Linked DNA regions of Homo sapiens: region 2 is linked to region 1. Evidence: fine-mapped expression QTL. A gene starts in region 1. The other region holds a variant in brackets. All regions are shown on one strand. Distances are between the middles of the regions. Region 1 holds the start of CBX7 (chromobox 7). Region 2 overlaps CBX7 (chromobox 7).

Evidence for each region. PIP is the estimated chance that this variant, and not a neighbour inherited with it, causes the effect.
Region 2: its variant is fine-mapped to the expression of CBX7 in whole blood (TOPMed, PIP 0.91).

The regions. Positions count from the first base shown.
Region 1 is chr22:39,149,120-39,164,443 of GRCh38, reverse strand. It overlaps CBX7 (chromobox 7), which reads left to right and starts at 11,764. Exons shown (of 6, transcript NM_175709.5): 1 at 11,764-12,068; 2 at 14,612-14,655. The coding sequence starts at 12,000. It also overlaps the pseudogene FUNDC2P4. RefSeq lists silencers at 11,458-12,027, 12,098-12,147 and enhancers at 11,605-12,186, 15,266-15,324, 15,222-15,324.
Region 2 is chr22:39,115,802-39,132,082 of GRCh38, reverse strand. CBX7 (chromobox 7) reads left to right here. Exons shown (of 6, transcript NM_175709.5): 6 at 1-1,311. It also overlaps the pseudogene COX5BP7. Among named protein-coding and RNA genes, the nearest start is that of APOBEC3H, 27 kb to the right of the region's middle. RefSeq lists enhancers at 96-657, 14,083-14,232, 14,243-14,342 and a silencer at 3,385-3,434. The variant G/A (reference allele first, on the strand shown) is at 6,131.

The DNA of each region.
Region 1 (15,324 bases):
TCGAGACCAGCCTGAGCAATAGTGCCAAACCCTATCTCTACAAAAAAAATGCAAAAATTAGCCGGGCATGGTGGTGTGCATCTATAGTCCCAGCTACTTAGGAGGCTGGGGTGGGAGAATTACTTGAGCCTGGGAGGTCAAGGGTACAGTCAGCCATGATCATGCCATGGCACTCCAGCATGGGTGACAGGGTGAGGCCCTAGCTCAAAAAAAAAGAAAGAAAGGAAAAGAAAAAAGAAAGAAAAAAATTAAAAGGCAAACCAGTCTTGGTGAAAATATTTATATAAAGAAATCTTTTTTTTTTTTTTTTTTTTTTTTTTTGAGACAGAGTCTTGCTCCGTTTGCCCAGGCTGGAGTGCAGTGGTGCCATCTTAGCTCACTACAACCTCTGCCTCCTGGGTTCAAGTGATTCTCATGTCTCAGCCTCTCAAGTAGCTGGGATTACAGGCACACACCACCATGCCCGGCTAATTTTTGTATTTTTAGTTGAGACGGGGTTTCACCATGTTGGTCAGGCTGGTCTCAAACTCCTAACCTCAAGTATCTGCCTGACTCGGCCTCCCAATGTGCTGGGATTACAGGTGTGAGCCACCATGACTGGCCAAAAATTCTTGTAACTCAAGACTAAGAAGATGATCTGATTTTTAAAATGGGCAAAATATTTGAAAACGCATTTCACCAAAGAGGATATATGAATGGCAAATAACTACTTGAAAGGGTCCTCAACATCATTAGCCATTAGAGAAATGCAAATTCTCTACATTCAGTCAGTATATGGGCAATAAATAGCTAAAATTGAAGATTGACAATATCAAGAGTTGGTGAGGATGTGGAGCAACTGGAACTCTCAAATAGTGTTGGTGGAAATGCAAAATAGCACAGCTACATTAGAAAACAGTTTGGAATTTTCTTTAAAAGTTACTATACATGGCCAGGTGCCATGGCTCACACCTGTAATCCCAGCACTTTGGGAGGCCGAGGCGGGTAGATCACCTGAGGTCAGGGGTTCAAGACCAGCCTGACCAACATGGAGAAACACTGCCTCTACTACAAATACAAAAATTAGCTGGGCGTGGTGGTGCGTGCCTGTAATCCCAGCTACTTGGGAGGCTGAGGCAGGAGAACTGCTTGAGCCCAGGAGGCGGAGGTTTCAGTGAGCCAAGATCACGCCACTGCCCTCCAGCCTGGGCAACAAGAGCAAGACTCCATCTCAAAAAAAAAAAAAAAAAAAAAGTTAAAGTTACCATACATAGGCCAGGCACAGTGGCTCATGCCTGTAATCCCAGCACTTTGAGAGGCCAAGGTGGGTGGATCACGAGGTCAGGAATTTGAGACCAGCCTAACCAACATAGTAAAACCCCATCTCTACTAAAAATACAAAAATTAGGCCGGGTGCGGTCGCTCACGCCTGTAATCCTAGTACTTTGGGAGGCCGAGGCAGGTGGATCACCTGAGGTCGGGAGCTCGAGACCAGCCTGGCCCACATGGCAAAACCCCATCTCTACTAAAAATACAAAAAAATTAACCAGGTGTGGTGGCAGATGCCTGTAATCCCAGCTACTCGGGAGGCTGAGACAGGAGAATCACTTGAACCCGGGAAGTGGAGGTTGCAGTAAGCCGAGATCACACTACTGCACTCCAGCCTGGGTGACAGAGTGAGACTGTCTAAAAAGAAGAAGAAGAAGAATTGTTCCACATTCTTGCCAGTGCTTGCAAGATTTTTTTTTTAACGGTCTCTCGCTGTCACCCAGGCTGGAGTGCAGTGGCGTGATCATATCTCACTGCAGCCTTGAACTCCTGGGCTCAAGTGATCCTCCCACCTCAGCCTCCTGAGTAGCTCAGAGTACAGGCATGCACCACCACACCTGGCTAATTTCTGATTTTTTTGTAGAGACAAGGGTCTTGCTATATTGCACAAGCTGATCTCGAACTCCTGGGCTCAAGCAATCCTCCCACCTCAGCCTCCCAGAGTATTGGGTTTACAGGCGTGAGCCACCACACCTAGCCTGCTTGCAATAATTTTTAAAACGGACTTTAACATTTTTGTTAATCAGTCGTATCTCATTGTGGGATTTTATTTGCGTTACTCATGAGCTTGAACAACTTTTCACAACTGTTGGCCACTGGTGATTCCTCTCTTTGCCTGTCCAAGTCTTTGCCACATTCTGCACTCCTGTATTTTGCTACAACTGATTGTCCATCTTCCCACTTGATTCACAGGAACTCTTTACATCACCTCCTTTGTCCATTTATGAGTGTTTTAAATATTTTTCTTTTCTGTTCACTTTATATATATTTTCTTCTTTTCTTTTCTTTTTTTTTTTGAGACGGAGTCTCACGTTGTCGCCCAGACTGGAGTGCAGTGGTGCCACCTCAGCTCACTACAACCTCTGCCTCCTGGGTTCAACCCTGCCTCAGCCTCCCGTGCAGCTAGAATTACAGGTGCCTGCCACCACGCCTGGCTAATTTTTGTAGTTTTTAGTAGAGATGGAGTTTTGTCATGTTGGCCAGGCTGGTTTGAACTCCTGACCTCAGGTGATCTGCCCGCCTCAGCCTCCCAAAGTGCTGGGATTACAGGTGTGAGCCACCGCGCCTGGCTCTTTTTGTTTTGTTGTTTGTTGGTTTGGAAATGGAATTTCACTCTTGTTGCCCAGGCTGGAGTACAGTGGTGCAATCTCGGCTCACTGCAACCTCCGCCTCCCAGGTTCAAGCGATTCTTCTGAGTACCTGGGATTACAGGCACCCACCACCACGGCCGGTAATTTTTTGTATTTTTAGTAGAAACGGGGTTTCACCATGTTGGCCAGTCTGGCCAGGCGGGTCTCGAACTCCTGAACTCAGGTGATCCACACACCTCAGCCTCCCAAAGTGCTGAGATTATAGGCATGAGCCACCGCTCCTGGCCTTGTTTTTTTAAGACAGGGTCTCACTCTGTCACCCAGGCTGGAGTGCAGTGGCACGATCTCAGCTCACTGCAACCTCCACCCCACAGGTTCAAGCGGTTCTCCTGCCTCAGCTTTTCAAGTCGCTGGCTGACTTTATATGTATTTTCATAAAGAAAGCTCATAGTTTTAATGGAGTCTAAGTTATCAATTGTTTCCTATATGAATTATGTTCCTGGTTTCTTGTTTAAGAAACGATTCCCTACTTCATGATCATAAAGATAAAGATATTTTAAAATATCATCTTCTAAAAGTTTCAGAATTTTGTCTTTCACATTTAGGATTTGAAGTCAGATGGAGTCAATTTTTGCCAGGCAGGAGGTCTAATGGTCTAATTTCCTGTATGAATAACTATCACCATTTATTGAAAAGTGTATCCTTTACCCAGTGACTGCAATTTTATTCTCTCTCTCTCCTTCTCTCTTTGACTAAGCTCTCATTGTCATTCCTTTTTTTCTATTTGTCTAGTCTTGAACAATAGGACATTGTTTTATTTGCTATAGCTTTATGTCTTGTTGTTGTTTTTTTTTGTTTGTTTTTTGTTTTAAACAGTCTCGCTCTGTCACCCAGGCTGGAGTGCAGTGGAGCCTGAACCTCCCAGGCTCAAGCGATCCTCCTACCTTAGCTTCTAGAATAGCTGGGATCATAGATAGCTACATGCCACCATGCCTGACTAAATTTTGTATTTTTAGCAGAGATGGAGTTTTGCCATGTTGGCCAGGCTGGTCTCGAAATCCTGACCTCAAGTGATCCTCCCGCCTTGGCCTCCCAAAGTGCTGGGATCACAGGTGTGAGCCACCGTGCCCGGCCAAAAAAATAAATTTAGATCTTCTTTAATGTCTTGCAATATAATTTTATGATTTTATTCCATAAGGGCCTTGCATATTTTCATTAGATTTATTCCCAGATATCTTACATATTTTTATTATAATATAAATAATATTTTACTTCATTTTCTAATTATTACTGGCATATGGAAACACAAAACACAATAGGTTTTTGTCTGTTGATATTTTATCCAACAATTTGCTAAATTTTCTTATTAATTATAATAAATATTCTGAAGATTTTTAAAATTTTCTACATAAAATCTGAAAATAATGATGGTCTTCTTTCTTTCTTTCTTTTTTGAGACAGAGTCTCACTCTGTAGCTCAGGCTGGAGTGTATTGGTGCGATCTTTGCTCACTGCAACCTCCGCCTCCCAGGTTCAAGCAATTCCCCTGCCTCAGCCTCCCGAATAGCTCGGACTACAGGTGCAAGCCACCACGCCCGACTAATTTTTGTATTTTTAGTAGAGACGGGATTTCACTATGTTGACCAGGCTGGTCTCAAACTCCTGACCTTGTGATCCGCCCACCTCAGCCTCCCAGAAGACTTCACCTATAAGCTATTGAAGGCCTCCTAAAGTGCTGGGATTACAGGCATGAGCCACCACGACTGGCTGATGGTCTTATTTCAAATCACTTCACCTTTCTTTCATTTGTTGTCTTTTTTTTTTTTTTTTTTTTTTTTTTTTTGAGACCGTCTTTCTGTGTCACTCAGGCTGGAGTGCAGTGGTGCCATCTCAGCTCACTACAACCTCTGCCTCCTGAGTTCAAGCAATTCTCCTGCCTCAGCCTCTCCAGCAGCTGGGATTACAAGTGCCCACCACCACACCTGGCTAATTTTTGTATTTTCAGTAGAGATGGGGTTTCACCATGTTGACCAGGGTGGTCTTAAGCTCCTGACCTAAGGTGATTCACCTACCTTGGCCTCTCAAAGTGCTGGCATTACATGAGTGAGCCACTGCACCTGGCCTCATATAACTTTTGACTCTCCCAAAACTTAACTACTAATAATCTACTGTTGATTGGAAGCCTTACCTATAACATAAACAGTCAATGAACGCATATTTTATATGCTACATGCATTATATATTGTATTCTTACCATAAAGTAAGCCAGACAAAAGAAAATGTTATTAAGAAAATCATAAGGAAGAGAAAATATATTTACTCTTCATTAAGTGGAAGTGGATCATCATAAAGGTCTTCATCTCTTCATGCTTTGTAGGCTGAGGAGGAGGAGGAAAAGGAGGGGTGGGTCTTGCTGTCTTGCCACCTCCCAGAGGTGGAAGAAGACTCATGAATAAGTGGACCCACATAGTTCATACCTGTGTTGTTCAAGGATCAACTGTAATTTAAAATTTTCTAAAATCTTCATTAAAAATTAATTTATAGGCCAGGCGCGGTGGCTCACGCCTATAATCCCAACACTTTGGGAGGCCAAGGCGAGCGGATCACCTGAGGTCAGCAGTTCGAGACCAGCCTGACCAACATGGCAAAACCCCATCTCTTCTAAAAATACAAAATTAGCTAGGCATGGTGGTGCATGCCTGCAATCCCAGCTACTCAGGAGGCTGAGGCAGGAGAATCGCTTGAACCTGGGAGGCGGAGGTTGCAGTGACCTGAGATCACGCCATTGCACTCCAGCCTGGGCAAGAAGAGTAAAACTCCGTCTCAAAAAAAAAAAAAAGATGAATTTTTTGTTTAACCTAATGTATCAAAATATTATCATTTCCATATTAAATAAATATCAACTTATTAATGAGGCATTTTACATGTTTTGGGTACTAAATCTTTGAAATCTGGCCTGTATCTAATTTTATTCTTCTGTCTGAGTTCGAACTAGTCACATTTCAAATGCTTGACAGTCACATTTGGCCAATGGCCACCACAGTGGGCAACAGATTCAGGATATCCAGTGTGATGTTTAGCAGAAATGGGGATTCATCCAATCTTGCCTTGTAACTGATCTCAAGGGGATGTTTTCCACATTTCAACATTCATTAAGATATTTGCTGTAGGTTTTTTATAGAGCCCTCTACCAGGATAAAGACATTCCCTTGTGTTGATAGTTTGCTACAAGTTTTAAAACAAACAGATGTTGAACTATTTCTGCATATACTGAGATGATCACATGTCTTCCTCCTTTAATTTTTTTTTTTTTTTTTTGAGTGGAGTTTGCTCTAGTTGCCCAGGCTGGAGTACAACGACACGACCTTGGCTCACTCCAACATCCACCTCCCGGGTTCAAGCGATTCTCCTGCCTCAGCCTCCGGAGCAGCTGGGATTATAGGCACCCGCCACCATGCCTGGCTAATTCTCCTTTCATTTTTTAATGAGGCAAATTATATTGACTGGTTTTCAAATGTTAAACCAACCTTGCATTTCTGGATTAGACCCAATTTTACCACTATGTAGTATCATTTTTACATACTGCTCAATTTGATTTGCTGTTTTATTTAGGATTTTGGTATCTATATTCATAAGTGACATTGGCCTGTAATTTTCTCTTGTGCTGTACTTGCCATATGAAGAATTGGGAAGCAGTCTCTCTTTTTCTATTATGTGGAAAAGTTGGGGGTAGCATTGGAATGAGTTCTTTCAAGAGCTTATAGGTGAAGTCTTCTGGGTCTGAGCTTTCTTTGTGGAAGCATTACCGGTTTCCTTCCTTTAATCATTATGGGGAGGTCTGATGTCCAGCTGGTGCCATAGGACTTCAGGTTGCTCAAATTCCAAAATAATTTCATACCAATTGGTATGTAGCCGCTACGATCAACCTCCTAAGTGCAATGACTCTTCCAGGGATGCCCCAGATCCCCCAGACCTTCTGATGTCACATAAATCACGGAATTACTGCCTGGACAGCCTTCTGGACCCTGCTCCATGTGAAGGCTGGAAAGTGTTTCAAATGGTCAGTAACTGGCTATGAAAGTATTTCATAATTTGGTACTATGACTAGGGATGGTACTCATTCGGGTTTTCTCTTCATCTTGCGACCATTTTGGTAAGGCATATTTTCCTAGGAACTTGCCCCTTTCATTCAAATTTTTACGCTATTGTAATGAGACTATTCATAATATCCTCTTTTATTTTCCTTTTTAAAATGTCTACAGGTTCTGTAACTTTTAATTACTGATATTAGTTAATTGTGTTTTCTCTCTTTTTTCTTGATCAATTTCAACAGGAGTCGTCCATGCCATTAGTCTTTTCACAGAAATAATGTTTGGTTTTGCTGATCCCATTTCATTATTTTCTCTTTACCATTTCTTCTTCTTCTTTTTTCTTTCTTTCTTTTTTTTTTTTTTTTTTTTTGAGATGGAGTCTCACTCTGTTGCCCAGGCTGGAGTGCAGTGGCATGATATAGGCTCACTGCAACCTCCGCCTCCAGGGTTCAAGCAATTCTCCTGCCTCAGCCTCCTGACTAGCTGGGAGTACAGGCACGAGCCACCAAGCCTGCTCATTTTTATATTTTTAGTAGAGATGGAATTTTGCCATGTTGCCCAGGCTGGTCTTAAACTTCTGACCTCAGGTGATACGTCTGCCTTGGCCTCCGAAAGTGTTGGGATTACAGGCGTGAGCCACTGTGCCTGGCCTATTTTCTCCTGTACCTTTACTCTTGCCTTCCTTTCATTTTCTTTGGTTTATTCTGCTGCTCTTTTTCTAGCTTCTTGAAACGAGCGCTTGTTCATTACTCTCAGCCTTTTCTCTTTACTAATATAAGCACAAAAGGCAATAAACTTCCCTCTAAGAAGCGCACTAGCCATAGCCCAACATTTTTACTATGTAATATTTCTATTGTCATTCAGTTAAAAATATTTTTTTCATGCTTAAAGGCAAATGTATTCAGTTCCTTTCCATGCAGCACACAATAAGTTTATCTATGTGCTTATTTCTTTTCCAAATCAACAGTTTGAGACAACCTTTCAGGGTCTGCTCATCCTCCATGGCGAGTCATCTTGCAATGTGATCTGGTAAGTGTCTTGCATGGGGGAAAAGGAACCTTCTTGCTGACCTACAGATTGGCCACATACGGGGTGTATGGGAGGAGACCTAACAACTATTGCCTCTTCTGCCACCATCAAGCTCATGGTAGGGCCACATTAACTTTTTTTTTTTTTTTGGAGACGGAGTCTCACTCTGTCACCCAGGCTGGAGTGCAGTGGCGCGATCTCAGCTCACTGCAACCTCCGCCTCCCGGGTTCAAGCAACTCTCCTGCCTCAGTCTCCCAAGTAGCTGGGATTATAGGTGCCTGCCACCACGTCTGGCTAATTTTTTTTTTTTTTGTATTTTAGTAGAGATGGGGTTTCATCATATTGCCTAGGCTGGTCTCAAACTCCTAAGCTCCGGCAATCCACCCGCCTCGGCCTCCCAAATTGCTAGGATTACAGGCATGAGCCACCGCACTTGGCCAAGGGCCACATTAACTTGTACCAAGAGATGCTTATAGAAGCCACTCGGATTTGCTACAGCAGGGAGGAAGGCACAGGAGAAGAGGAGAGACTTGATGTCCTATGATGGAGTGTAGAGACTGCTGGATGGAAAAAAAACAAGAACAATGAAAATAAGGTCATCTTCCTTAGGATGCCATGCCAAACAGAAAGCCTCCGAAAAATCCCCCAGTCACTAGAACATTCTTCACAAACGACACCACCTCCTCAGCTTTGCTCCTGACCTTGGTAGGTATCTGATTGCTCTTAAGGGATCTTCAGCAGCTCTTTGGCTTTCTTTATATCTTTCTCCACTCGTTGCCAGTCAACTTTGATGTACCCAGTATGATTTGCAAGCTGAAGGAGAAAAAAACAAAACACCTCCCACAACTGTTACAGCCAACTTTCCAACCTTCTGGGATATGAAACCCGTGCACCATTCAGTGACACCCCCAATGAACGGCTGGGTTGCCACCCTTCACTTTTCGGGGAAGGTCCAGATTCCTGCCTGAACAGCTTACACCACCATGGCTGTTTCTTAGCAAATTCCACAAGGTCCAGCGACTCAAAATTTCCCTCAAAGTTTGCTTGACTGGACTCGGCCATTTCATCGAGCTTGTCTTGCGAGGACACACGCAGAGGATCCGCGCTGTAGGAGGCGGAGTGGCACACAGAGTCATCACCACTGGTTGGCTTCCAGCACGAGGGACAGATTTCCATTCCCACGGCGACAGCGGAAGAGCAGTTAAAAATATTTTATAATTTCCATTACAATTTCTTTTTTTTGAACCGCTAGTTAACATAAAAACGTACCTCTTCCGTGGCTCATGCCTGTAATTGTAGCATTTTGGGAGGCCAAGATGGTTGAATCACCTGAGGTCAGGAGTTCGAGACCAACCTGGCCAACATGGTGAAACCCCACCTCTACTAAAAAGACAAAAATTAGCTGGGGGTGGTGGCGGGTGCCTATAATCCCAGCTACTTGGGAACCTGGGAGGCAGAGGTTGTAGTGAGCCAAGATCGTGCCACTTCACTTCAGCCTGGGTGAAAGAGCAAAACTCTGTCTCAAAATAAATAAATAAATATAATGAAAAACAAAAACAAAAAAACCCATACTTCTTACTTTCCAAACATATGGGGCTTTTGAAGTGAACTTTTTATTATTCATCTCTAGCTTATATGTGTTGTGGTCAGAGAATGTATTCTGTTATTTCTGACTTTTGAAATTTATTGAAATGAACTGTTTTTGTAAGTATTCCATGTCTTGTAAAGGGGAGTATTTTACCATGGTAGATAACAGTGTGCTATGAAGTCCATTAGTTAAGTTTATTAATTGTGTTCAAATCTCCTATATACTATTGAATATTTTTCTTCTTCTCCTACCACTTATGGAGGGGTGAGTGTTAAGATCTCCCACTATAATTGTGGATTTGTCTATCTCTCCATCTAGCTGTCTTCTTCATGTTTCTTATATTTTAAGATGATTTGCATACAAATGTGAAATTGTTCTATTTTTCTGGTGAATTGGACACTTTTCATTATGAAATGACCTTATTTATCTCTAGTGATGTTTTTCCCTCGATATTAAAATAACTGCACCAGCCTTCTTTTCGTTAGCATTTGCGTGGTATTTTCCCCCCATGTGTTTACTTTTGACCATCACTAGCTTTATGTTTTGGAAGTGTCTCTTGTGGGTTTCTCTTGTAAACTGCATCTAGCTATTTATGCATTCTGATAATCTTTGTATTTTAACTGCAATATTTAGTTGCATTTATTGAATCACAAAATATTCGAATTTATAGCTATCGTCTATTTGTCCCCTCCCTGCCCCGTCTTGTATTTATTTTTCTCTCCATTCTTGCCTGCTTTACAGTTGTTTGGGTTGGTTTAATCATTCTTTTTCCTCCTCCAATAATTTGGATAACTATACACAGTATTTCCAGTCCTACAGTGTTTATCCCAGTAATGACAATCTGGATTCTTAAATTCGTCAAAGTGTATTTGGTATCTATCTTCACCTTCCTCCTGAAGAATATAAGGATCTTAGAACACTTTAACTCCATTCACCCAAGTAAATGCCATCACTGTTGTGTATTTTAAATCTGTTTTTATCCAGAAGTCATTGTTATTGTTTCACACTATCGCTGTTCTTCATTTTTCTTTATTCCCAGTTGCATCAGACCTCCGTCTGGGATCATCTTTTTCCTGCCTGAAGTTCCAGCTTTGGAATCTCCCTCCGGAGGGTCTACCAGTGGCAAACTCTTAAGTTTTTGTATTTGTAAGTGCTATGATTTCACCTACGTTCTGGATACATGTGCCTCATACTGGGTACATAATTCTTGAAATACATTTTCACTGAATATATAATTCTAAGATGATGGTTATTTTCTCTCTGGCTTTGTTGCTCTTGATGAAAAGTCAGGTGTGAATCTATTATTCTCTTTTTCTATGTGCCAGAAAGAGGTGTTGGATTTTATTGTGAGGGAAATAGGGAGGAAAATTTTTAAGCACAGGGTGACCCCGTCAGATCTGCATTTTAGAAGCACACTCTGGCACTGTGTGGCTGAGATCGGAGGGAGGGCAGCTCCGCGAGGTCTCTGCTGTGGTCCAGAGAAAAGACGGGGCGAACCTGGGAGGTGGGTGCGGTGAGGGCAGGCAGACCCGAGTCCCCGAGGGGATGCCGGAGCGACAGAAGTTGGGGTCAGTACAGGAAGGAGCAGGGACGACGCCGGGCTCCCAGTGAGGAATGGAGGCGCGTTAGCGAAAAAGGAAGGGGGGTGGGGAATCAAGAGTTCGTCTCGTGCCACAAATGGTTGAGCCCCCACTAAGCACCTAGCGCCCAGTACACGCGGGTTTGGGGAAGGCTGGGGCAGCGCGGCGGCAAAATCCGTCCCCGGGGGACCTCAGCTCCACCGCGGCCGCTCCTGCCGCGAACGAGGGCCCGGCCCGGGAGCCCTCGAGGCAGCGCCCGCGTCTGACCCGTGCGTCTGGGCACCGACCACCGAGGGTCGGGTGGATGGACAAATGGAAGGGCGGATGGAGGGGTGGGTGGACGGACGTGGAGACACTGGCCAAACTGCGCCGCGGAGAAGGCCGGATTAGGGAGACCTCGGCCCTGCGACGTCCGGACACGGTGGGAAGCCTTTTGGGTCCCGGCTCTCCTGCAACTCGAGGGGCTGCGCCTCGGGCCCAGTCTCCTCCGCTGCGGGAGGTGAGCAAATGGCCTCCCCGCTCTGAGCCTTGACTTTGTCGTCGGCTCCACTGGGCCCTGCCACTTCGGCCCCTGGCAGTCACCGGGAGGCTATGAGGCGCCCGCCTGGGTATTAAGGATCACGTCCCGCCCCGGCGTCACAGCAAGACGGGGCGCGCGAGCCTCCGCCCCGCCCCAGCCGGTGACCGAGCCAAATAAGTCCCACGGCAGCGCTCGCGGCTCGCGGCCCGCGGCCCAATCGCAACCCGCGGGGGCGGGCCCCGGGGGCGGGGTTCCGATGGGGGCGGGGCTCGGGGGCGGAGCTGACCCTCAGGGCGCGAGCCGAGCCCGCGGCCGTTCCGCGCGCTCCCGCCCCGCCCCCTCCTTGCGCGCGCTCGCTCGCTGGCGCCGAGGAAAACGTTGCGCAGGTTCAAAAATGGAACGTCGGCGGCGTGAGGGAGCGCGAGGGGGTGTGCGCGCGTGCGCGTGCGCGTGCGCGCCCGGACGAGGGTGACGGGGACCCCGCCAGCCCCAGCATCGCGCGCCGCAGCCGCGGCCCCGCAGCTCCGCCCCCGGCCCGGCCCGGCCCCGGGCCCGCTCGCCCGCCGCCCCGCATGGAGCTGTCAGCCATCGGCGAGCAGGTGTTCGCCGTGGAGAGCATCCGGAAGAAGCGCGTGCGGAAGGTGAGGCTGCCCGGGGGCGGCTCCCAGGACCCCAGTGGGGTCCCTCCCGTCCCCAGCACCGCTCCCTCCACGCTGGGGCTGAAGGGGAAAGCGGGGCGCGGGGGCCCCGGCAGCCCTGCGCTGCTGGGCCCGTCTCCCCAGCCCGTGCCTCAGTTTCCCTGCCACCGTGTAGGGCGAGTAGAACAAAAGTTGTCGCTCCAGGATGCTAGTGGCGGCCGAGCCTGCCTGAGCTGGAGATTAGGATCGGACGTAGGGATCCTCAGCGCCATCCCACCTCGCTCCCCTTTTATTGTAAATATGGGGAGACTGAGGCCCAAGTTGAAAGGACTTGCCTAGCGCGTTATGGTCAGAGCTGGGTTTTGAACTCGGGACTCTGGACGCTTGGCACCAAATCCTTTCAAGTTGTAAGTGGAGCTTTGGAAAAGTCTCCTCCGGCCTCTGAAGTTTTTCCTGCTGGACTTTGGCCTTTTCCGATCCTGCCCCCTCTACGCCACCCGAGCACATCCCTATTCCCCGCCCCCACCCCCACCTCAACTCCTAGCCCAGGCCAGGGCTCTGAAGCCCGCCCCCTGCGCTGGGGCATCCCCTAGTCTCCTACCCCATCTGCCTTCTTCAAAACATACACCCTGCAATTTAAGGAGGTGTCTGTTCTGCTGGTTTCAGAACCCCACACTTTGGGGCTAGACTTTGTCCGGGCCTGGCGTCTACACCTCCCGTGCACTTGTTTGGCGAGGGGGCTCGCCTAAGGCTGGGGAAATCCTTGGGGAGAAGTTCCTTTCCTGGTACGCACTACTGTCCTTCCTTTGTCTCCTCCTCCCTGCAGCCCTTTGGGAGGCTCCAGGCCGACTGGGAGGGGCCTTAGGGGGTCACCTCCTCCCATTTAACAGAGACAAAAACTGAGGCCCAGGCAGAGGAAGTGACCTGCTCAAGGTCACCGAGCAAGTTAGATAGGGAGGTAGAGCAGGAGCTCAACTGGGCTGATTGGCAGCCCATCTTCTTTCTCCATAGAGAAAACTCAGTCCTGGCATCTCGGGCCAAGGGTGAAGGTCAAGGTGGTCAGGAGCATCTTTTCTTCCTCCAGCTGTGCTTGGGGTTTTACTCTTCTGATTGAGGCAGCTGTTCCTCCTCCTTCTCCTTTTTCCTAGGGTTTTCTCCACTTAAAAGAGAATTGATTTATTCCACAAAGCTCAGTGCTTTTCGTGCTGTGTAGCCTGAAGCAGGCACAGCACTAACTCCCTCTACGATGGAGCCCGCAGGGTAGCACAAGAGGGCGAGATCATCATTCCTTCGGCCAGTCACTCAAAATATTTATTGAGGGTTGGTCAGGTACCAGGCACCAGTCTAAGCCCCAGGGATCCACCCCTTCCCTCAGGGAGCTGGCATTCTGCAGAGGCGGCACACAGTGAATGAGGAGATACAGACAGATGCCTTCAGATGGAGCTGTGTGCTCTGCAGAAATAGAACTGCAAGGTGCCAGTGGAGACAGCATGGGAGAGGGTCACCAGGGAAAGCCTCTGTGAGGAGGTATCATATTTTGGTCTTAAAGTTCTGGCGTGCAGGGGCTTCACTCACAATGGGGTTGGACTGTAAACTTTTTTTTTTCTTGGCACCAAGATCTCACTCTGTCACCCAGGCTGCAGTGCAGGGGCATGAACATGGCTCACTGCAGCCTCAACCTCCCCGGCTCAAACGATCCTCCTGCCTCAGCCTCCTGTGTAGCTGGGACCACAGACAAGTGCCACCATGCCCAACTAATTTCCTTTTTTCAGAGACAGGGGTCTCACCGTGTTGCCCAGGCTTGTCTCAAACTCCTTCCTGGGCTCAAGCGATCTTCCAGCCTCAGCCTTCCAAAGTGTTGGGATGACAGGCTTGAGCCACCGTAACTGTAAACTTTTAAAGCCTGTGAGGAAGGGAGGGGCCTGGCTCTACTTTCTAACAACCACAGGGCTGACCACCCCTTCTGAAGGTGGAGACTTTGCCAGTCTTCCATGGGGTCCTGCCAGGGTCTTTTGAGTTGAGAGTCCTCAAGTCACTGGCCCATTACCTCTGAGCCAGAGGCAGCCACTCACAGACTGAAAGGGGACTCAGCAGATGGGGGAGGAGCGTGGGGACTACCCCAGAGAGGAATGTTTTCGTATTTGGAGACTCTTCCAATCTAAAAAAGAAAGTAAGCGTTCCCACCTGTGCACTGGGGCTCTAGACACTGTGGGTCTTTGGCCACGCATGCACACCTCCATGCAGTCTCAGCTCCCAGTGTGTGACATGAGCCCTGGGCTTGGGCCTCAGGAGCCTCAGAGGTGGCTGGAGCCAGACGCACTCCTGTGCTGTCCTAGGGAGGGCAGTATGGGGCGGGCATGCAGCAGTCGCGGTTATATGGGTTGGCGAGGATCTGGTGGACAGTCCCCGGATTGTGTTTGTGTGTTGGGGAGACACCTGTCTGCAGATGGGATTTGGAGCTGGGCTCCTTTGGGCCTTAACTGTCCTTCCGAGTGGCTGTAGGGGCAACCACGAGACTCACTGTGTCTGCTTCTCTCTCTTCTCAGGGTAAAGTCGAGTATCTGGTGAAGTGGAAAGGATGGCCCCCAAAGTAAGCTCCTTCATGTGTGTGTGTCTGTCTGTCTGCCTACCGACCCATGCATTCCTCCACCTGCCTTTTGCCCCCTCCCCTGCCTAGCTTTTAGCTCCAGCTACTCTTGTAACTGGACAGCTGACCTTGATTTAATCATCATCTTCTCTGGGCCTCAGTTTCCCCCTGGACCACAGGAGGGTCAAGGTGGGTCTCCAGCTTCTCTTCTCACCCTGCCCTCCTGAGTGTTGAGCTCCTCTGCTAGTTGGAGCTTCTGCTCTCCCTCCTCCCCTCCCTGTGGCTTTTCTTGGCAACTGGGAGGTGAAGGCCCAGCATCCGGGCTACTGGAGATGGCTGCTGGACAGGAGGAGGGGACCCCAGCTGCTTTAAGCACAGTGCTGCATGAGTCCTCAGTGCTGTGTGGCCAGGGGCAGAGCCTGAATCCCCCTCACCTCTAGACGGCACTTTCCAGTCTATAGAGCAGGTTCCCATACAGCTTTGTAAGGTAGGTGTGATCAGGCGCTCTCAAGGTGAGGAAACAGGCTCAGAGAGGGTAAGCAGCTTGCCTTAGGTCACACAGCAAGTGGAGGCAGAGTTGGGACTTGAACTAGGCCTTCTCCTTTTCAGGTGTCTCCTCTGTGCCTTCCCAGCCTCCCATCTCGGAGTTGGGAGGCAGGGAGCTGTATCTGA
Region 2 (16,281 bases), 33 kb after region 1:
CCCCTCCGGGATGACCTGATTCACCTCCAGCCCAGGGAATGGAATCTAGAGGAATACGTGGGGTGGGTCTGGACAAGGAGCGGCAGGAATCACCACCCATCTCCAGCTGTGGAGCCCTGTGGAGGGGAAGGGGAAGCTTGGGGTTCAGAGGGGACTCTTCCAGGAGAGGGGTGCCCAGCGGAGGTAAAGATGATAGAGGGTTGTGGGGGGTCTCTAGTTGAATGTTTTGGCCCATGACTTTGGAACATGGCTGGCAGCTTCCAGCAGAAGTCACGCTCCCCATCCCCCAGGGGACATAGGACCTTTTTCCTGCTTCCTGGTCACTTTCAAAGAACTATTTGCGCAATCTGTGGGTCTGTGGATTCACGGGGCTTTCTGTGTGGGTGCTGCAGTTGCTTTTGTCTGCAGCAGCAGGACACATCTTTCCTCTTACTCAGCCCTTTATGGCCCATGGGGAACTCCGTGGCTCAGGGAGAGCTGAACTCCAGGGGTGTGACCTGGGACGGGTGGGCCTGAGGTGCCCAGCTCAGGGCAGCCAGGTGGCTCATGGGCTGTAGTGAGCCAGCTCCCTGGGGGAAAAGGCTGTGGGCCGTTAGGACCATCCTCCAGGACAGGTGACCTCTATGAGGTCACCTACGGCTGTGGCCGTGCAGGCCTCCTTCCAGCCCAGAGTGGCCCAGTAGAGCAAGGCAGACAGTGACCTCCACCCCCGCAGCCCTCTTAAAAGGCCAGTACTCTTGGGGGTGGGGGGAGGGTTTAGAAAGCATTTGCCCATCTGCCTTTCTTTCCCCCAGCCCCCACCCGCTTTGAATGTAGAGACCCGTGGGCACTTTTCCTTTTGTGGTGGGGGGTGCGGAGGAGGTACCCCCACCCCTGGCACAGCCGCCTGGAATGCAGGACTGTCACTGCTGTTCGGGTGATGACCTCGTTGCCAAGCTCCTCCTGTCCCCTTGTTCTGGGGGCAGGCGCTGTGCTTCTGTGAGGTGGTTTAGCTTTTGCTTTCGAAGTGGCCAGCTGCGGCCACCAGGTCTCAGCACAAGAGCGCTTCCTTTGCACAGAATGAGCTTCGAGCTTTGTTCAGACTAAATGAATGTATCTGGGAGGGGTCGGGGGCACGAGTTGATTCCAAGCACATGCCTTTGCTGAGTGTGTGTGTGCTGGGAGAGTCAGAGTGGATGTAGAGCGCGGTTTTATTTTTGTACTGACATTGGTAAGAGACTGTATAGCATCTATTTATTTAGATGATTTATCTGGTAAATGAGGCAAAAAAATTATTAAAAATACATTAAAGATGATTTAAAAAAAAGAAAATTCCTGGGCATTTGATTATTCCTTCTGGTGGTTGTCAAGTGCATCCGTCCACCAACAGACTTTGTGCGAGCAACAAGGCTGTTTATTTCACTTGGGTGCAAGTGGGCTGAGTCCAAAAAGAGTCAGCCAAGGGAGATAGGGGTGGGGCAGTTTTATAGGACTGGGGTAAGCAGTGGAAAGTTACAGTGAAAGGTGGTTAGCTATTGTCAGCAGGGGAGGGGGTCACAAGGTGCCTGTTGGGGAGATCATAATACTCATTGTCCGGAAGAAGGTCACCAGGTCGATCAGTTGGGGCAGGGCAGGAACAAGCCATAATGGACCTGCAGGCCATCTGGATGTATATGTGCAGGTCACAGGGGTTACAATGGCTGAGCTGCAGCTCAGAGGCCAGACAGTGGTGTCCCCACTGTGCTGAAGAAAGAGCTTCAGCCCCTGGCAATGCCTGGGGTTTAGGTCCCAGGTCTGCTGGTCACCGGCCATAATCTCGGACAAGTCTTTCCCTTCGCTGAGACCCCAGATGGACAGAGAATTCACTGAGGTGACGGGAACAGGAAACTGCGGGTGTCTCTGGGTGAGGCCATCACCATGGTCCGTAGTGTGTCATCAGAGGCCTGGAAGTGCTTCTGGCACCTTTTATCTGCTTCTCCCCAAGAGTCCTTTATTCCAGAACCTTGGAGGGGTGAGCATCGCAGGTCTCTGCAACGGCAGATTCCGGATCGCAGGACTGTCATGGGGCTAACGCTCACCTACTGTGTGTTCAGCCAAGCTTAGCACACACATCTGAACGTTGAGACAGGTGGTCAGAGCCAAGGGCAAGTCCTGGGAGCACGTCTGCATTTCAGTGCATCATGGGCTGCAGGACAGAGGCTAGGCTGGAGCAGGCAGGGCTGATGGTGGGGAGAAGAGTTAAACAGTCTGTTGTAGCCATGCAGGTGGAAGGGGATGGTGGCCGCAACTGTGGACATGTCAGTGAAAGAGAAACAGATAGACTGGGGATAGGTTTAGGTGGTGGAAGCGTCAAGATGTGGCCACTGAATTGATGAAAGTGAGGGATCAAGAATATGCCTGGGACCTGGCACAATGGCTCATGCCTATAATCCCAGCACTTGGGGAGGCTGAGGTGAGCGGATCACCTGAGGTCAGGAGTTTGAGACCAGCCTGACCTATATGGTGAAACCCTGTCTCTACTAAAAATGCAAAAATTAGCCGGGCACCTATAATCACAGCTACTCTGGAGGCTGAGGCAGGAGAATCTCTTGAACCCAAGAGGTGGAGGTTGCAGTGAGCCAAGATCGCCACTGCACTCCAGCCTGGAGACTCCATCTCGAAAAAAAAAAAAAGGGGGGGAGGGGGATATTGGACACAAACACATGCTGTGAGATGACTGTGTGAAGACAGAGATGCCATCCATAAGCCAGGAAGAGAGGCCTACATCAGAGCCTTCTCTCCAAGCTCAGAAGGAACCAACCCTGCTGACCTTTGATCCTGGACTTCAGCCTCCACAACTGTGAAAGGATACATTTCTGTTGTTTAAGCTTCCTGGTCTGTGGGAGCTTATTATGGCAGCCGTAGCAAGCTGATGCAGCGTCCATGAGAACAGAGTCTAAGGCAGGGACTTGGGTGCAGGTAGTTTATTTGGGAGGGGGTTCTAGGAAGCAAGAGTGGAGACAGGGCCAGGGGAGGAGGGAAAGCCAGGGTAAGGGCACATTATTGAGGTGGGTGCTGTGGGAACAGGAGTTTGATTCCACCTGGACTTTCGGGGAAGGGTTCGAAACGCCTCCCGAAATTGTCCGTCCAACTGGGGATAGGAATCTATAGCCACTCTCCCATCCTTCCCATCCCATTACTGAAGCTGCTCTGGCGTGTTGACTTCGTGCACTTCTCAGCTGGGTCCATGCAGAGGCCAAGGCACCCCCACCTGGCATCCAAATTACCCACTAGGCAGAAAGTGAAGACTGGACCCTGGCCATGGCTAAAGGCAGAGATGAGGATGGCAGGGTGAGAGCTGAGCAAGTGGAAACACCTGGCAGAGGAAGGCGTGGCCGGGCTGGTTTCACTGAGTTCAGAGTGTGTGTGGGTTGGCAGTACAGGCAGCTCTAACACAGTGTCATACACCAGAACACAGATATTCATTTCTCACAGTTCTGGGGGCCGGGAAGTCCAAGACCAAGATGCCGGCAGATACAGTATCTGGCGAGGGTCACCTTCTCACTGTGTCTTTACCTGGCAGAGAGAGGATGCTTTGATGTCTCTTTCTTTTCTTCTAAGAATGCTAATACCATCATGGGGGCCCCACCCTCATGGCCTCAAGTAAATCTAAAGACCTCTCAAAGGCCCCACCTCCAAATAACGTCACACTGGGGCCTAAGGCTTCAACATAAGAATTTGCGGTGGGTGATGAGAGGGTGGACACACACACAGACATTCAGTCCATGATACAGGTGTTGAGGTAGAGTGGTCCCACAAGCAGTTCACAAACAGTTCTGAAGCTTAGGGGAGAAAAACACATTTGGTAGAATCGTGCAGTGGCACGATTTCAGCTCACTGCAACTCCACCTCCCGGGTTCATGCCATTCTCCTGCCTCAGCCTCCTGAGTAGCTGGGACTACAGGTGCCTGCCACCACACCCAGCTAATTTTTTGTATCTTTTTTAGTAGGGACGGGATTTCACCATGTTAGCCAGGATGGCCTCAATCTCCTGACCTCGTGATCCACCCGCCTGGGACTCCCAAAGTGCTGGGATTACAGGCACAAGCCACTGTGCCCAGCCTTTTTTTTTTTTTTTTTTTGAGACGGAATCTCCCTCTGTCATCCAGGCTGAAGTGCAATGGCGTGATCTCGGCTCACTACAACCTCTGCCTTCCAGGTTCAAGCGATTCTCCCGCCTCAGCCTCCTGAGTAGCTGGAATTACAGGCACGCACCACCATGCCTGTATTTTTAGTAGAGACGGGGTTTTACCATGTTGGTCAGGCTAGTCTCTAACTTCAGACGTCGTGATCCACCCGCCTCAGCCTCCCAAAGTGCTGGGAATACAGGTGTGACCACTGCGCCCACCCTGTTTTTTTTGAGACAGAGTCTTGCTCTGTTGCCCAGGCTGGAGTGCAGTGGCACGATCTTGGCTCACTGCAACCTCTGCCTCCCAGGTTCAAGCAATTCTCTGCCTGAGCCTCCCTAGTAGCTGGGATTACAGGCGCATGCCACCACGCCCGGCTAATTTTTGTATTTTTAGTAGAGAGATGGTTTCACCATCTTGGCCAGACTGGTCTTGAACTCCTGACCTCATGATCCACCCACCTTGGCCTCCCAAAGTTCTGGGATTACAGGCGTGAGCCACTGTGCCTGGCCTAAACTTTTTATTATGAAAAAATTCAAACATGCAGAAGTAGAGGCAGCAATATAAAGACCCTCATGCGCCACTCACCCAGACTCCACCATCCTCAGTGCTACCCCACACTTGCTGGGATGCAGATGCTGGGGCCTGGGCACATAGTGGTAGATAAAGCCACGGGTGGGGGAAGGGTCAGAGGAGGAAGAAGGCGATGTGCCTGTGTTTGGTGGTGGGTAGATTTATGCATGCCTGCCCCCAAGACCAAGGGAGGCAAGAGACCAAAGACAGAGGCTGACAAATCCAGTTTCTGAGAAAGAAACATTTAATGGGGACTTAAGAACAGAGGCCGTGTCTCCGGCAGCTGAGAGATGGCAGATCCCCGTAGCCGCCCTCCAGAAAGTGTTCTTTATATAGCAAGCTTTTAGGGTGAAACGTGTAGCTGGTCATGTCTTCAGACTTTGTTGTCAAGACTCATGAGCACTGGGGAGGCTGGATAAGCATCTTTACGAGGGGTCATCTGTGCGATGGGCATTGTTTAAAGACCTTGCTGCAGGACACATTGTTATGCAAGGGTCAGACACCAGTCCTCCTGGCGGTTACGCTTCAAGGTGGCGTCACTCTTGCTGTTTTCCTATAGCACGCTCGTGTATGTGTGTGCGCACGCATGCACGCACATGTGTATGCTCATAGGTGGTAACATGAGGGCTGATTCTGCCTCGTCCTAGTTTCCTGCACTGGGGGTAGAGTCTGGCTCTAGTCGATTGCTGGCAACTCCTTGGTGGCTCCCTTTAGGAAGTGGAGCACTCAGGGCCGGGCGCAGTGGCTCATGCCTGTAATCCCAGCACTTTGGGAGGCCGAGGCGGGAGGATCACCTGTGGTCCGGAGTTTGAGACCAGCCTGGCCAACTTGGGGAAACCCCGTCTTTACTAAAAATATAAAAATTAGACAGGCATAGTGGCGTGCACCTGTAATCCCAGCTACTTGGGAGGCTGAGGCAGGAGAATCACTTGAGCCTGTGAGGCGGAGCTTGCAGTGAGCCGAGATTTTGACACTGTACTCCAACCTGGGTAACAGAACGAGACTCTGTCTCAAAAAATAAATAAATAAAATAAAATAAAATAAAAAGTGGGGCACTCAGCATGCTTTGTCTTTAGCTTTAAGCCTTAACCCAAGTTCTGAATCCCCAAGAACATGTCATGGCTGGGTGTGGTGGCTCAAGCCTGTAATCCCAGCACTTTGGGAGGCCAAAGCAGGTGGATCACTTAAGGCCTGGAGTTGGAAAGCAGCCTGGGCAACATAGCGAGACCCCGTCTCTATGAAAAATGAGAAAAAATTAGCTGGGTGTGGTGGCACCTCTAGTCCCAGCTACATGGGAGGCTGAAGCAGGAGGATTGCTTGAGTCCAGGAGGTCATGACTGTAGTGAGCTATGATCATGCCATTGCACTCCAGCCCAGGTGACAGAGTGAGATCCTGTCTCAAAGGAAAAAAC[G/A]AAAAACAAGAAAAGTCTCAGAATTGCCCTGGTACACGTGCTCAGTATAGCTCTTGTGTATGTTGTTACCTGCATGCTGACAACGACTCTCTGAGGTAGGTACTATTGTTGCACCTGTTTCTGTGAGTGGAGACAAGTGGTTAGAGAGGCTGCGGTTAGTTACTCAAGGCTACATGGCTAGGACGTAGCAGAGCAGAGACTTGAACCTGTATCTGGCACCAGACACCTCATGACTAATCCTTCTACAGCAGTTCTCAAACTTTTTGGTTGCTGAATCCATATACATTCTTAAAAACTGTTAAGAACCCCAGAGAGCTTTTGTGTATGTGGGTTATAGCTATCAATATTTATCATATTAGAGGCCAGGTGCAGTGGCTCACGCCTGTAATCCCATCACTTTGGGAGGCCGAGGCAGGTGGATCACCTGAGGTCAAGAGTTTGAGACCAGCCTGACCAACATGGTGAAACCCCATGTCTACTAAAAATACAAAAATTAGCCAGGCGTGGTGGCAGGCGCCTGTAATCCCAGCTACTTGGGAGGCTGAGCCAGGAGATTCACTTGAACCCAGGAGGTGGAGGTTGCAGTGAGCCGAGATCCCACCACTGCACTCCAGCCTGGGCGACAAGATCGAGACTCTCTCCAAAAAAAAAAAAAAAAAAAAAAGTAATGGCTTCATTATTTTTTAATGAATTAGATATTTTTAAATTTCTCATATATATATATATATATATATATATATATATATATATATATATATATATATATGGTTTTTGTTTTGTTTTTTTTTTGGAGACAGCCTTGCTCTGTTGCCCAGGCTGGAGTGCGGTGGCGTGATCTCGGCTGCAAACTCTGCCTCCTGGATTCAAGCCATTCTCCTGCCTCAGCCTCCCGAGTAGCTGGGAATACAGGTGCCCACCACCACACCCAGCTAATTTTTGTGTTTTTAGTAGAGATGGGGTTTCGCCATGTTGGCCAGGCTGGTCTCAAACTCCCGACCTCAGGTGATCCACCTGAGCCTCCCAAAGTGCTGGGATTACAGATGTGAGCCACCGCACTGGGCCTGAAGCCATTACCTATTAACATAAGTAACACATTTTATGAAAAATATATTTTCCAAAACAGAAAGATTCAGTGAGGAGAGTTGGCGTTGCTTTACTCCCCGCCGTGTCCCCCCCACGCCCCGTTGCCTCTTTTTTGTTTGGCTTAATAGTTAGGTGGATTATCATATCTCCTGCGTAAAAACCTGTTGCAGTATTGCATGGCATGCAGCCTCTGGAAAATTCCGCAGTTCGTTGTGAGAACATGAGAGCGGGAAGACAACATCTTAAACATGATGATGAGAACCGTGGACCTTACAGGCCCTGAAAAGGCTGGGGGCACACTTGGAAGCCACCGTCTTCTTCCCTGTAGCTCGCCTGGGCAGGTGGCCACAGCTAGCCATCTGAGGCCGGTCCGTGGTCCATTCCTGGAAGGCGTGGCTTCTGGCCGGTGCCCCGGGAGAGCTCATTGCGTGGAGATCCCCTGTCAGCGCCCCGCTTCACAGTCCCCCACGCTTCACCGTCCACCTCCCAGCTTCACTGCCCTCCCCCGCCCCCCTCCCCGACCCCCTCCGCACCCCCCCATCCCTGGCCGCTTCACTGTTCAGTCCGGATGCCTCCTGGAAAGAAAAGCCATACAGCACGAAGGAAAGCAGGCGCGGGAAAGTTCCTGTGAAGCTGGAGGGGAGGGGGCAAGAGAGAAAAGCTGCAGAAGGAAAGAGGAAGGAATGCAGGCACTAGGGGAGAGGAGGGGACGGCGGTCGCTGGGGTCAGGGGAAGGCGGACGCCTCTTCCACTGTCCTGAGAGGGAGGAGGCACAGAGGAAGCAGGCCCCAAGGGCCGGGTGCCATGAGAGGGAGAGGGAGAGGAAGAGCAGCACCCCAAGAAGGTGGAGCAGGGGAGGGAGGCCGCCCGGCTGGCCTGGGGTGGGGCAGGTGCAGCCTTCCCGGCTCCCCAAATTGCCCAGCTGTCCTGAAAATAAATCCCATGGGAAAGCGGGGAAGAAGCTGCCCCACCCCCGGACCCCCAGGACCTCCCTGTCCTCCTCTTGACTGCACCTTTGGGCCCTGCCTTTTAGATGGAATCCGATGGCTCTGAGCCCCGCCTGCCCCTGCACCCCCTGCCTCCTTCCTCCTTGTGCTCCTCTGCTGGCCTCCTCCAGTGGCTTCGGTGCTTTCTCACCTCACTGGATCCGTTCTTATTAATTAATTTATTTATTTATTGAGGCAGAATATTACTCTGGTTGCCCCTGCTGGAGTGCAGTGGTACCATTTGCGCTCACTGCGGCCTTGAGCTCCTGGGCTCAGGTGATCCTCCCACGTCAGCCTCCCAAGTAGCTGGGACTACAGGTGCCCACCACCACGCTGGCTAGTTTTTTGTATTTTTGGTAGAGATGGGGATTCACCATGTTGCCCGGGCTGGTCTCAAACTCCTGAGCTCAAGCGATCTGCCCGCTTCAGCCTCCCAAGTGCTGGGATTACAGGTGTGAGCCATCTCGCCTGGCCTCACCGGGTCCATTCTGACTTTGGGAGGGTGTGGTGGGATTTGGGTCCCTGCCCACCACAGACAGGGGGTGGGAATCTTTCAAGGAAGCCATGTGGCTGGGGGGATGCGGGGAGGTCTCCTCTGGAGAAGGAGGGCCAGGTTCCGGTTGATGGCCAGGCCAGGGCAGTCAGGCCAGCGGGAGTGCAGGCCATCGTCCCTGCCTTGCTGGAGGGAGAGCACTTTGCCAGAGAGGAAGAGCCTATGCCTCTCACCTGTCCATTTGGGGGCTCACTTTTCCCCTGTCTGTCTGATCATCCAGCTGACACTGTGCATGTCCGGTTCACCTGGGGTTGTAAGGTGAACAAATGCATGGCCATCCTCAGAAGGCCTGCTTCTGTCTGGTTTTGGCCTCTGGCTTTGAGGCTTCAGTTACTTGCAGGTGATCTTAATTTTAAGTAAAAATGGCCGGGCGCTGTGGCTCACGCCTGTTAGCCCAGCACTTTGGGAGGCCGAGGTGGGCGGATCACGAGGTCAGGAGATCAAGACCAATCCTGGCTAACACGGTGAAACCCTGTCTCTACTAAAAATACAAAAAATTAGCCAGGCGTGGTGGCGGGTGCCTATAGTCCCAGCTACTCAGGAGGCTGAGGCAGGAGAATGGTGTGAACCCGGGAGGCCGAGCTTGCAGTGAGCCGAGATGGCGCCACTGCACTCCAGCCTGGGCGACAGAGTGAGACTCCGTCTCAAAAAAAAAAAAAAAATTTTAAGTAATAAAACAGATTTTTTAATAGTTGCTTTATTCAAGATATTTTTGTGTATGGAGAGGAATACTCATTAACATTGGTACTTTATTGCTCAATTTATTCAAGTAATATAACTCTGAAAATCAATTTTCCTTAAGCATTTAAACATTATTAATTTGATTAATTATAAATCTAGTATTATAAATCTAGACTGATTCTTTTGAACACTCCAGACATCTTAACTAGCAGGCCAGACACACACAAATACAGTATTTCAGATTGATCGAGATGGCGGGATCTGAGCAATCTAATGATTGATTCTTTACAGAGTTGCACAAACCAAGGAGATTTAAACGGAGACCTTTCATCGTCAGGCCGTGTCTCTTTAAATCATGATAACAATGTTTATTTGTGGCATCCGGGACTAAGTTTCTTTTTGTCATAGAGGTGCTACTGGGGTACCTGTCAGAGTGGAGGAAAATGATGTGCAGCCACTAGAGGGCCCCTGAAATTTATTCTTTATATTTATTTATTTATTTTTAACTTTTACAAAATAGAGCTGCGGTCTCTCCATGTTGCTCAGGCTGGTCTCAAACTCCTGGCCTCAAGCGATCCTCCAACCTCTACCTCCCAAAGTGCTGGGATTACAGGCGTGAGCCACTGTGCCCAGCCTAAAATTGATTCTTCTTCTTAGTTATTATTATTTTTGGTGGCAGAGCAGAAAAGCATTTCTAAGTATATAAATACCTCTGACTTGACTTTTTACATCATCCTACCTAAATATGTTGTTGTTTTACTGACCACTAAGAATTTCTCTATATTACACACACGCACACACACACACACACAATCTCTTTCTCTCTCTCACTTAAATGAACAAATGAAAATATATTGTGTATAATTTCTTTTTTTGAATGCAGTTTATTTCATTTTGGCTTTTTTCTTTCTTCCTTTCTTTCTTTCTTTTCTTTTTTTTGAGACGGAGTCTCACTCTGTCACCCAGGCTGGAGTGCAGTGGTGCCATCTTGGCTCACTGCAACCTCCACCACCCGGGTTCAAGCAATTCTCCTGCCTCAGCCTCCTGAGTAGCTGGGATTACAGGCGTGCACCACCACACCCGGCTAATTTTTGTATTTTTAGTAGAGATAGGGTTTCACCATCTTGGCCAGACTGGTCTCAAACTCCTGACCTCCACCCGCCTCAGCCTCCCAAAGTGCTGGGATTATACATGTGAGCCACCTTGCCCGGCCTTCTTTTTGGTTTACTGCTCCCTGCTCCCCACATCCCTTGTTTCTTCTCTCCCACTTCACACGGCTCTTCAGATAACTCATGTAAATGATCTTGGAATACAAGAAATATTCTCCATGATCATAGAATTTCAAAGGAACATAGGTACTTGTGCATGAGCATATGTAGGTTTTTTCATTGTTTTATAAAAACAACATCACGTGATGTATTAGGATTCTCTAGAGGGCCAGAACTAATAGGATCTATCTATCTATCTGTCGATCTATCTATCTATCTAATAAGATCTATCTATCTATCTATCTATCTATCTATCTATCTAAAGGGGAGTTTATTAAGGAGTATTAACTCACACAATCACAAGGTCCCACAATAGTCCATCTGCAAGCTAAAGAGTAAGAAAGCCAGTCCAAGTCCCAAAGCTGAAGAACTTGGAGTCTGATGTTCGAGGGCAGGAAGCATCCAGCATGAGAGAAAGATGTAGGCTAAGAGGCTAAGCCAGTCTGGACTTTTCACGTTATTCTGCCTGCTTTATATTCTGGCCTCACTGGCAGCTGATTAAATGGTGCCCACCCAGATTAAAGGTGGGTCTGCCTTTCCCAGCCCACTGACTCAAATGTTAATCTCCTTTGGCAGCACCCTTACAGACACACCCAGGATCAGTACTTTACATCCTTCAATCCCATCAAGTTGACTCTTAGTATTAACCATCACACATGATTATACACATCATTCTGTCCCTTTTCTCAATAATTTCTTGTAGAAATTTTGGCTGCATACTAGTCAATGGTGTGAATGTACCATAAATTACACATTCATCCACCAGTGGGAATTCACTTTATTTCCAATTTATTTACCCTGCAAACAGCATCGCACTACTGATGACAAGCAGGCAACTGCGTTGGAGAGGGAGGTCATCATGGCTGCAAGGAAGGGACCGGACCCATATAATATACTACCCCTAAAGGCAGCTTCAGGCACCAAAGAAGACCCTAATTTAGTCCTCTCCATCACCAACAAGAGAAGAGTGGGCTGCATCTGCGTAGAGGACAACAGTACCATCACCTGCTTTGGGCTGCACAAAGGCGAGACCCAGTGATGCCCCAGCTATGGAACCCATTACAAGCTGGTGCCCCGCCAGCTGACGTACTGAGCACCTGCACCAAGTTACCCAAAATGTGCTGCAAAGTTTCTTCTTTCCAATAAAGAGTAGCCATTGCATTGGCTCCTTCTCCCATTAAAAAAAAAAGAAGAAAGGGCCGGGCGCGGTGGCTCATGCCTGTAATCCCAGCACTTTGGGAAGGCGAGGTGAGTGGATCACCTGAGGTCAGGAGTTTGAGACCAGCCTGACCAACATGGAGAAACCCCGTCTCTGCTAAAAATACAAAATTAGCCGGGCTTGGTGGCGCATGCCTGTAATCCCAGATACTCAGGAGGCTGAGGCAGGAGAATCGCTTGAACCCAGGAGGCAGAGGTTGTGGTGAGCAGAGATCGCACCATTGCACTTCAACCTGGGCAACAAGAGTGAAATTCCTTCTCAAAAAAAAAAAAAAAGAAAGAAAGAAAGAAAGAAAGAAAAGAAAAAAGGCCAGGCATGGTGGCTTATGCCTGTAATCCCACATCTTTGGGAGGGCGAGGCAGGAGGATTATTTGAGCCCAGGAGTTCTAGACCAGCCTGGCCAACATAGTGAGACCCTAACTATTTAAAAAAAAAAAAAGTCACATGCAGATTTTTTTTTTTTTTTTTTGAGACAGAGTTGCCCAAGCTGGAGTGTAGTGGGATAGTCTTGGCTCATTGCAACCTCTGCCTCCCGGGTTCAAGTGATTCTCCTGCTTCAGCTTCCCGAGTAGCTGGGATTACAGGCACACGCCACCACACCTGGCTAATTTTTGTATTTTTAGTAGAGATGGGGTATCACCATGTTGACCAGGCTGGTCTGAAACTCCTGACCTCAAGCGATCCGCCTGCCTTGGCTTCCTAAAGTGTTAGGATTACAGGTGTGAGCCACCATGCCTGGCCTAGTTGTCTATTTGTATCTTTTCCCATACAGACATTTTAGATTTTATGTAATCAAATAGATCTATATTTTTGTTGAAGGTCTCTGGATTCTCTCTTTTAATTATAAGGATTTTCCTAATTTCTGTTTTGTACATGTCTTCTGGATTTTTTTCTAAGATTTTAATTTTTTACATTGAAGCTCTGAGCCATCTGGAATTTATTTTTGCATATGGTATGAAAAAGGACTCAATTTTCTTCCAGATGGATAGCCAGTTGTGCCAGCACCATTTATTAAGCAGTCCAGAGTGTCCACCGAAATTAAGGCTATTGAGGCAGAAATAATTTGATAAAGGTTTATTGGAAGCCAAATGTGATGATCGACCCAGGAAGACACACCAACAAGGTTGGGGGTATTTCAGAGTCTGTCACAAGGTTTTTTTTAGGAAAGTTTAAAAGAAGGAAGGGGGAGCTGGGCGCAGTGGCTCATGCCTGTAATCCCAACAATTTGGGAGGCCGAGGTGGGTGGATCACCTGAGGTCAGGAGTTTGAGACCAACTTGACCAACATGGTGAAACCCTGTCGCTACTAAAAATACAAAAAAAAAAAAAAAAAAATTAGCCAGGCATGGTGGTGCATGCCTGTAATCCCAGCTACTTGGGAGGCTGAGGCAGGAAAATCGCTTGAACCCAGGAGGTGGAGGTTGCGGTGAGCCGAGATTGTGCCACAGTACCACAGCCTGGGTGTCATGAGCAAAAATATATCTCAAAAACAACAACAACAACAACAAAAAACAATGGAGGGGGACTCCTTTCCTTAGAGGGTACAACACAGAGGTTACCATCACCATCATGGGGTACAGATGACATCATACAGGATAAGAATGCCTACACACAAGACAATCAGTCGAACTTCAGACTTCAGCTCACCTTAAAAGAAATCAGTGTCCTATTTAGTGTCTGCAGGTTACACACTGATCAGTACATCAATCATTTGAGAAATTTATGATAAGATTCTTTAGTTGGAGACGCAATGTTACCATCGAGTCAAAAGACTGTTGCAGAACCCCAAAGGGTAGGTTTGAGTACCTGACACGCTGTAAGCCAAGCACTGACATGTGGGCGCTTAGGAGCAGAGAAAGGTTTATTCAATTTGGCCACGGCCTGAGGATGGGAGACCCAAACTCTCGAATCTGACCTTCCTTTGTAAGGTGGGTAGGGCGGGAGGTGAGATTCCCCCATGATCAAAGCTGTTTGCGTCCCTTCGTCAATCAAACTTCTGGACATCGCCAAGGAGGTCGCATGACCTCAGGATCTTCATTCTTCAGAAGCAAAACAAGTTCATGAATCTTGCAGGCAGCCTCCAGGGGGCAGAATGTGACGTTAATCAATTACTAGTGAATTGGTGAACACCCTCTACTTCAATGACCACATGTGGAGGAAGAAAAGAACAGAGAAGAAAATAAGTAACCAACATCTTATGGTTGTTATAGCATAGGCTGGGTTACAGCTCCCAAGGTGGATTGCTTTGGAAGCCTGCTTACTGTTGAACATGACTTGAAGGTTATCAACAGTTATTCATTCAATTACTCATGAATTTTCTGGGCAGCGGGTGGGGGATTCCCCGAACTGAGGACTCTTTCCCGTTTCGGACCATACAGGGTAATGTATAGATGTTGCCATGGCATTTGTAAAACTGTCAAGTCACTGGTGGTAGCGGTAGCGTCTTTTAGCACAAGAATTAATTTTAATTAGCATATAATGAGCGGTGAGGATGATCAGAGGTTTTGGCAGGTTTGGTCCGGGCCTCTTTACCGCATCCTGTTTTATCAGGGGGTCCTTGTGATCTGTAACTTGTGAAACCAGCCCTGCTGAACTACCTCAATATGAAAATAGTCTTAACCTTTGAGAAGAAGCCTTCGGTTCTAATTGATAGCCATATTTCCTGGTAATAATGTTGTAATCAACATCTTTGTATATTCCTTAAGCACTTAAATACTTAAAAAAGGGGGCTGTGTCAACCCTGAAGAGGATTACTGAGATTTTACTCATCTCCGTCCTGCATGATAAAAGAAAAATACATCCTGTTATTCCAGCAAATTGATGTTTTAATTAAGAGATCAAGGCCGGGCATGATGGCTCACGTCTGTAATCCCAGCACTGTGGGAGGCTGAGGCAGGTAGATCACCTCAAGTCAGGAGTTCTAGACCAGCCTGGCCAACATGGTGAAACCCCGTTTCTACTAAAAATACAAAAATTAGCTGGGCATGGTGGCGAGCGCATGTAATCCCAGCTACTCGGGAGGCTGAGGCAGGAGAATCACTTGAATCCGGGAGGCGGAGGTTGCAGTGAGCCGAGATCGCGCCACTGCACTCTAGCCTGGGTGACAGAGTGAGATGCTATCTCAAAAAAAAAAAAAAAAAAAGAGAGAGATTAAAAGTCTTAGATTTGCCTGTCTATTCCTATGCCAGTATCTGTCTGTCTATCTGTCAACGAAAAGAGTCAAACTCTATAAAATATTTGAATAGATTTATTCTGAGCCAAATATGAGTAAGCATGGCCCATGACACAGCCTTCAGGAGGTCCTGAGAACATGTGCCCAAGGTGGCTGGGGTGCAACTTGGTTTTATATATATTTAAGAAGGCATGAGACATCAATCAAATACATTCGAGACATATATTGGTTTGGTCCAGAAAGGCAGGACAATTCGAAGTCAGGGGGCTTCCAGGCTATAGGTAAATTTAAACATTTTCTGCTTGACAGTCGGTTTAGTTTGTCTAAAGACCTGGGATCAACAGAAAGAAAATGTTGAGGTTAAGATAAAAGATTGTGGCTGGGCACAGTGGCTCACACCTGTAATCCTAGCACTTTGGGAGGCCGAGGCGGATGGATCACCTGAGGTCAGGAGTTTGAGACCAGCCTGACCAATACAGCGAAACCCCATCTCTACTAAAAATATAAAAATCAGCCAGGCATGGTGGCACGCCTGTAATCCCAGCCACTCGGGAGGCTGAGGCAGGAGAATCTCTCAAACCCAGGAGGCGGGAGGTTGCAGTGAGCAGAGGTCCACTGCACTCTAGCCTGGGTGACAAAACTAGACTGTGTCTCAAAAATAAATAAAATAAAATAAAATAAAAGACTGTGAAGACCAAGTCTCTTTTGAAGTCTCATAGTGGCTGCCCTTAGAGACAAGAGATGACAAATGTTTCCTATCAGACCTTTAAAAGGTGCTAGACTGTCACCACCGGTAACACTCCAGTCTGGATGACAGCAAGTCTCCTTCTAGAAAAAACCAAAAACCAAAAAACAAAAAACCACCTCTGATCCCCAAGTTTTCCGTGAGACTGATTTGAGTAATAATAAAATTCCAGTCTCCTGCACAGCCTGCTCTGCGTGAATTACTCTTTCTCTATTGCAATTGCTGTGTCTTGATATAAATCAGCTCTGTCTAGGCAGTGGGCAAGGTGAACCCCTTCAGCGATCATATTGGAAAGTAAGTCATGAAACAGAGGGTTAAATAAAACTCATCTGATGAGAATTTATGGTTTATAGGGCATGACTCCCCAGACCCCTTAGATAGGAATTTGGGCAAGATTAAAAAAAAAAAAAAAGCAGAGCTTAGTCCTCATATCTACCTATCTATC